2 linked regions of the Homo sapiens genome follow. The protein of the gene in region 1 purifies or fractionates together with the protein of each later gene. This does not show direct contact. Each region holds a gene or a part of one and is shown in the gene's direction. Other genes may lie near its edges.

The links. The genes of interacting proteins can lie anywhere in the genome.
Region 2: the proteins of FAF2 (region 1) and MCUR1 purify together in Homo sapiens (affinity purification with mass spectrometry; 3 studies listed by BioGRID and IntAct, with this or other methods). This does not show direct contact.

What each region holds. Positions count from the first base shown.
Region 1 is NC_000005.10:176,451,385-176,454,884, forward strand, and holds part of FAF2 (FAS-associated factor 2), read left to right. Parts: intron 1-930; exon of another isoform or gene 931-1,844; intron 1,845-1,933; exon of another isoform or gene 1,934-3,500. UniProt on the Homo sapiens protein: Plays an important role in endoplasmic reticulum-associated degradation (ERAD) that mediates ubiquitin-dependent degradation of misfolded endoplasmic reticulum proteins.
Region 2 is NC_000006.12:13,811,758-13,815,783, reverse strand, and holds the start of MCUR1 (mitochondrial calcium uniporter regulator 1), read left to right. Parts: upstream 1-1,226; 5' UTR 1,227-1,354; coding exon 1,355-1,769; coding exon of another isoform or gene 1,770-2,012; intron 2,013-4,026. UniProt on the Homo sapiens protein: Key regulator of mitochondrial calcium uniporter (MCU) required for calcium entry into mitochondrion. Plays a direct role in uniporter-mediated calcium uptake via a direct interaction with MCU.

The sequences.
Region 1 (3,500 bases):
TTTTTAAGTAGAGACGGGAGTCTTGCTATGTTGTCCAGGCTGCTCTCAAACTGCTGCCTCAGAGGTTGAGATTACAGTGTTGAGATGAGTTGCCTCAGTGTTGAGATTACAGATGTGAGCCACCACACCTGGCCCCTTAACTCTTTTAAACCTTTTAATATAACAGTGTAAAGGGTTAATCTTGTTCATTTTAATAATGAAGAAACAGGTTCTGAGAGGTCAAATAGCTTTCACAAGTAGTAAGTGGTAGAGATTTAGAAATTTATATCCACAACCATCTTCTGTGTAACTTAATGGAGAAGTCAAGTACACACATGAATAATGGGTATGCGATATATATAGATATATATATATGTGTATATATGTATATTGTATATATACATATATATACGTGTGTGTGTGTATATATATATACATATATATATACACACATATATATATATACATATATATATATACACACATATATATACACATATATATATACACACATATATATATATATATATTTTTTTTTTTTTTTTTTTTTTTTTTTTTGAGACAACATATCTCTGTTGCCCAGGCTGAAGTGCAGTGGCGTGATCATAGTTCATTGCAACCTCAAACTCCTGGGCTCAAGTGATCCTCCCACCTCAGCCTCCTAAGTGGCTAGGACTAGAAGTGCCTGGCTAATTTTTGTCTGTTTGTTTTTGAGACGGAGGCTTGCTCTGTTGCCCTGGCTGGGGTGCAGTGGTGCGATCTCGGCTCACTGCAGCCTCTGCCTCCCAGGTTTAAGCTATTCTCTTGCCTCAGCCTCCTGAGTAGCTGGGATTACAAGTGCCTGCCACCATGCCTGGCTAATTTTTGTATTTTTAGTACAGACAAGGTTTCCCCGTGTTGGCCAGGCTGGTCTCGAACTCCTGACCTCAGGTGATCCACCTGCCTCGGCCTCCCAAAGTGCTCGGATTACAGGCGTGAGCCACCGGACCTGGCCAGCAGGTAACATTTATTAAGTATCTACTATGCCTTAGGCATGGTGTTAATGTATAACTATTATGTTTAATCCTTACAGCAGTTTACAAAGTACCATAGGTGGTATGCATAATGAAGCAGATCTATTGATGTATTTACTCAAGGTGATTAAGCTACTAGGTAGTGGAATTCTAGTGGGTCTAGATCTGGACTTGATGGCTGAGTTCTTACTAATATACCTTGCTACTTTGGAAGAGGAATAGAGTTTCAACATGTGTTGGGCAGAATATTCAAAGCTAAAGAAATAGCTTGCACAAGGTAGGGAGATGGGAAAGTGAAGTGTCTGTGGTGATGAACTGAAGAGTATTGAAAGTGGACAATAAGACTAGAAAGGTAAATTAAAGCCAGATTTTGGAGGCCTTTCAAAGCTGTTCACAATGTTTAAACTTTAATCTGTAGATGAGGGGAGCCATCAAAGGATTTTTCAACTAGGGAGTGACACTAGGTTTCAGGTTTGCTTCATTAGCAGTATGGAGTATGTGTTTGGAATCTCCACAGGGGTCAGTACAGAACAGGATGACACTGCTAGGAGTTGGTTCTCAATATGTTTCTTCATTTGGTATATTGAAATCAGTAAAAGTAAAATATTTTGGAAATCTCAGGTTTCCTGTATTTCAATTTTTTTATGATGTTATTTGGTTAGAACTCCCCAAGGCATTTTATTTCATATCATGTTTCTCAGCCCATTTGATATCTTCCAGGATTTTTCTACAGTTCTCCACTTCTGTTTATTTTGGAACCAGTTGAATATGAATAACTATTGCAGACAATTGTTTTCAGCTATTTCAGATGGGAAAGAATAAGGACATAGGTTTTAAGGAGAGCTAATGCAGGTATGTGGAAGGTTACTTTTATTGGCGTTCATTTTCCCAAATTTCCAAATATAGCAGACTCTCCTAGTGTCTTGGTTTACTGCCTCTAGGTTGCTGTTTGAACAACTGGAGAAGGATGACATGGACAGAGAGAAGGGGGAATTAAAGGAGTTATGCAGGCCAGCAGAGGAAGAAATGATCCCTTTTCTGCTTGCACAGGAGGAAGAAATTTATGACCCTCATCCTTTTAAATGATAGCCTGAACGCTGGGCTGTAGAATCAAATTTATAAGTCATTTTGAAAATCTTTCTTTTGGCTTCACCTGACTATATTACCTAAAGGAAAAAAAAACACATGGTGCTTTTTGTTCATGTATTTAAAACAGAACATACAGTGGTCCATTTGAGGGTTTTTTGCCAGAGAATTTGGCACTGTTGAGAAAACAAGAGCTTTGAAAATCCAGGCAAACATGACTTAACTTTTCAACAGCTTATGGTGAGTTCTGTGATCTTGAACAGGTTCTCACTTCTTTGAACCTCTTTCATTTTCTATAAAATGGAGATACTGGCCGGGCGCAGTGGCTCACACCTGTAATCCAAGCACTTTGGGAGGCCGAGGCTGGCAGATCACGAGGTCAGGAGTTCAAGACCAGCCTAGACAACATGGTGAAACCCCGTCTCTACTAAAAATACAAAAAAATTAGCTGGGCGTCGTGTCAGGTGCCCATAATCCCAGCTACTCGGAAGGCTAAGGCAGGAGAATTGCTTGAACCCAGGAGGCGAAGGTTGCAGTGATCCGAGACCGCACCACTGCACTCCAGCCTGGGCAAGAGCGAGACTCTAAAAAAAAAAAAATTGGAGATACTATTATCTAGTTCACAACATTCTTTTTATTTTTTACTTTAAAAAATCTAGTAGGCTGGGTGCCATAATCTCAGCACTTTGGGAGGCCGAGGCAGGCAGATCACTTGAGGCCAGGAGTTCGAGACCAGCCTGACAAACATGGTGAAACCCCGTATCTACTGAAAATATAAAAATTAGCCAGACATAGTGGCATGCACCTGTAATCCCAGCTACTCGGGAGGGTAAGGCAGGAGAATCACTTGAATTCTGGAGGCGGAGGTTGCAGTGAGCCGAGATCGTGCCACTGCACTCCAAGCCTGGGCAACAGAGTGCGACTCCGTCTCAAAATAAATAAATAAAAATAAAAATACAAAAAAAGTTAGCCCAGTGTGGTGGCACAGGCCTGTAATCCCAGCTACTCAGGAGGCTGAGGCATGGGAATCACTTGAACTCAGGAGGTGGAGGTACCAGTGAGCCAAGATCGTGCCACTGCACTCTAACCTGGGCAACAGAGCCAGATTCTGTCTGAAAAAAAAAAAAAAAAAAAAAAAAAAAAAAAAAATCTAATAATACATGCTTGTTGGAAGTTAGCAACATACAATTGTATTTTAAAAAGTAATCAAATCTTATTTTATTTCCCCATTCTAATTCCAGGTTTGTTGTTTATCTTTGTGTATTTTTGTCTTCTGCATACACAGCTTAATGTGGAAGCTCTCTTAACCTTAACCTTCACTTGACTGATTAATTGGAGCAGATATCCTCCTTTTCCTAAACTCTATTCTGTAATATGTTCAAGCATTTCTGCAAACTCTACTCTGTAATGCACTCAAGTGTC
Region 2 (4,026 bases), on another chromosome or scaffold:
CACAGTTTAATCGTTCCTCTAATGTTGTGCACTATTTTCCCATTTTTTCACAATCACAAATTATGATACAATGACTATCTTTTGTGCATATGTGAAATTACCAATATTAAGCATTTTGACCCATAAAAATGACAAGTTTGTATAGTCAAACCTAGTAGATATTTAATATTTTGGATTATTCCCATTATCCCCATTTTTAGTTAGGTGACTTGAGAAAAGTTTACAAATTTTTGTTGATACTCATTGCTAAACTGCTTTTTCTACCAATTTTATAAATGTATACTCCTTTTACAAAAGTGTCTTAGGTTGGTGCAAAAGTAATTGCGGTTTTTGCCATTACTTGCAATGGCAAAAGCCGCAACTACTTTTGCACCAACCTATGACTTGAATCCTGTTTTTCAGTTCTTCAAATTTTGATAGACACTTATCTTGCACATCCATATGCACGCTCCTCTCTTCCCAGCACTTTGTACATCTCTCATGGCTCATAACACATTCTTCCATCACGTATGTGTACACATATGGCTGTATAGGAAAACAGCTTCTGGAGGATAAGAACAATTTGTTTTGCGGTTTTTTATTTTTAATAAAATCTCCTAGCTTGGTGCCTTATGCATTTCATTTATTTATTCAACTAACATCTTCCAAATTCACATAAGGGACCAGTTATCTGTGAATGGTGTAACAGGCCTTCAAAAAGTCCACGAAACTAAACATTACCAGTTTCAAATATACCCGACAGGTCTCATTTTAACATTCATGCCCCACGTTTTAAGTTCCCAGATTGCTACCTTCCCATGTTTTTGGTGCTCTAATCTGGAAACAAAAACTCTGAAAATTTAGTTTTGAATGTATTATGTGAGGGCCTTTCCCTGGGCCCTGCTAATAATTCCTTAAAATGCTCCCCAGAACCACATGTTTGGGGACTTAGGATAATCAGTGAAATCTAGGGCAGCCTGTCGGTCTGAGACTTTTCACAGGACTCTGAAGGGCACCGGGGTAATTCCTTTTTAAGGACAGCAGTGCAGTGAAAATGCAAATCGTGACAGCAACAAGCTCCTTCCAGTTCCGGAGTGCCCGCAGGCTCCTCCCGGTCGCCGCCGTCGCCTAGCGAATGGGGTGGGGGCTCGCACGGTCCCCGCATCTCGGAGCGCCACGGCGGGCTCCTGCCGCCCCGCCCCACCCCACCCCCGGCGCGCGTCCCGAGCCCCGCCCGCGCGCCCGGCAGGAAAGGGCGGTCCTGCGCTGTGGCCCACGCTCGCTCCCGCTGTCGGACTCTGGGCCTGGACCGCGCGTGGCCGGCGCCAAAAGCGAGAGGCATGAGCGCGCGCCCGGGCCAGTGAACTGCTCGGGGATGGACTGCGGCTCGGTCGGCGGCCAGAGGACCCAGCGCCTGCCCGGCCGCCAGCGGCTTCTCTTCTTGCCCGTGGGCCTCAGCGGAAGACCGGGCGGCAGCGAAACCTCAGCACGCCGCTGCCTCTCTGCGCTCTCCGACGGTCTGGGGGCGCTGCGCCCTCGCGCCCCGGCGGCCCGCGGCGGCGTGTCACGTGCCTCACCGCTGCTCCTCCTCCTGCTAGTGCCCTCCCCGCGCTTGGCCGCCGCAGCCCCGCGCCGGCAGCTCGGGGACTGGGAGCGCTCGCGCCTCGGGTATGCCGCACCCCCGGCCGGGCGCAGCAGCGCGTGGAGGTGCTCACCGGGCGTCGCCGCTGCCGCCGGCGCCCTTCCCCAGTACCACGGCCCGGCGCCTGCACTCGTTTCCTGCAGGAGAGGTGAGGCCCGGGCGGGAGAGGAGAGGGGGCTCGTCTCGCGGGGTTGGACGGCGGGGCGGGGATCTCAGCTACAGCCTCCCCGAGGAAAGGCCCGGCAGGCCGGAGGGCGGGTCCTCCAAGGCCACCGGCATCTGCCCGGAGCGTGGGTCGAAGGTCCGGGCCCGCCCTGCTCGGCCGCGGTGGCGGGGCTTAGCCCAGAAGAGACGAATTCCTGGGAATCCCGGGCGCTAAAGTTGGAGGGAGGTGCGTGCTGGGGCGGGGAGTTGGTGCCCGCCCACTCCTAGGGTCTGCTTTTGGGCGCCGCCTTCCAGGAGTTCTGTTTGGCAGCGCCCAGCCTGTTGGGCGTTCAAGGGGAAGGGGTGTGTATGTTTGAGCAGCAAAGCTCTGGGAAATGAAGGGATTGCTTTACAGTTTGATTTCAAATTCTGATGGAATCATTAATTCGTGGAGTCCTAGCGTCTGCCCTGTCCCTGGCGCTTTTCTAGATGTGTGAGATATATCAGTCCACAAAATCTTCCCTCTGGAGCTTAATTCTAGCAGAGCAGACGCAGTAAATATGTGTGTGTGGATATACGTATGCATAATTGATGTATATATAATTTATATATACAAATAATTTTTATATATTCGTAATTCGATGCCTGGTATAGAAAAATAGGATAAGGCTTGGGAAGTGGAATGGGTCTCCAGTTGTGAATTTAAATAGGGTGATCAGAATCGATTTCATTGAGAAGGTAGCATTTAATTAGAGTCATGCATCTCTTCAGGACAGTCGCCTACTGAGAAATGAGTCATTAGGCGACTTCTTCCTTGTGTGAATATTGTAGAGTGTGCTTACACAAACCTGGATGCTACAGCCTACTACACACCTAGACTATCAGGTAGAGGCTAGTGCTCCTAGGCTACAAACCTGAACAGCATGTTACCGTACTGAATACTAGAGGCAATCTGAACACAATGGTATTTGCGCATCTAAATGTAGAAAAGGTAGAGTAAAAATATGTATTATAGTCTCATAGACCACTGTCGTGTGTGCCCCTCTGTCCTGGGCTGAAAGGTAGTTGTGGGGCTCATGACTATTTAAAGGAGGTGAGAGAGATCACTGCCCTGGAGATGAGGAAAGTAAATAGAATCAATTTATTAGATAGCATATTGTTGATTAAAGAAAAAAATCATTTCTGATAATCAACAGACTTGGCAAAATTATCACTTTGGGCAGTCTATACATATTCATTAGTAGCCATCACTAACTACACATTTTTCATATTTTCTTCAACAGATAGGCCCACTAAATGTTGACCATATCTATAATTTAAGAATATCATTGGCTGGGGTAAAAACTGATTAGTAGAGCAATAAAGTGAAGGAAACTTTATATACAGAGAGTGGGGAATGAGTAGTGAACTCGGTGTCACTGTCCTTCAGTAATTAGGAGTCGGAGATGAGTTTGGTCTTTATTCTGTATTTTGCCTTTTGTTGCGCTTTTTCTGACAAGCTAGTAATTTCCAATTTGTTTTTCTCTCAATGCAAGAGTATAGGGCAAAAAGAGAGTGTTCTTTCTCACGGATTTGCTGACCAATCGGTAAGGTGGTACTGTTGTTTTAGTGTCAGCTATCTCATTCTTCAGTCATCATAAAAAATGAGTATGGATGCATAAAAACAGAAGAGAGCAGAGACACAGTTAAGGAAGCATGTATGCCCATTAACCAGCCAATGAGCGTTTCCCAACCATTTGTTTGCTTGGTGCCTGAGGTTCTCGGTTGAGCTACTTAAGGATGTCATGAGTAGGAAGTTTGTATTTGGTTTCCTCATCCTGTCCAAGGCTACCTTTGGGCCTCTATTGTAATTGTGGGTTTTTAATATTCTCTTGATATGCTGAAGGTCCCCAGAAAGGGGAATTGCATGTTACACGTTGACACAGCTCAGTTGGCTCGCTTCCTTATGATCAGTGAGGAGTCTGGGAGTTGGCGGTGTCCTCAGGTACTGCCCTTTGACAGAAGGCCAAGAGGGCATTTCCTTCCCTCATCAGGGGTTGGAGTGACCAATGGAAAGTGGCCAGCCCTTCTGTCGACCTTTCAGAGGCAGGATTTCTTGGAAATAAGCTTGCTGTTTCTGGTTCCAATCTTTTTGAAAAAGAACAACAATAACAAAAAAACTGTAGTATCCAAATTGGCGTTACAAAGTAGTCATGTGATTGTTTTGTTTATGTGGGGGTGGGGGTGAGGAGGTTATGTTTTAAATACATGAATGATTATTT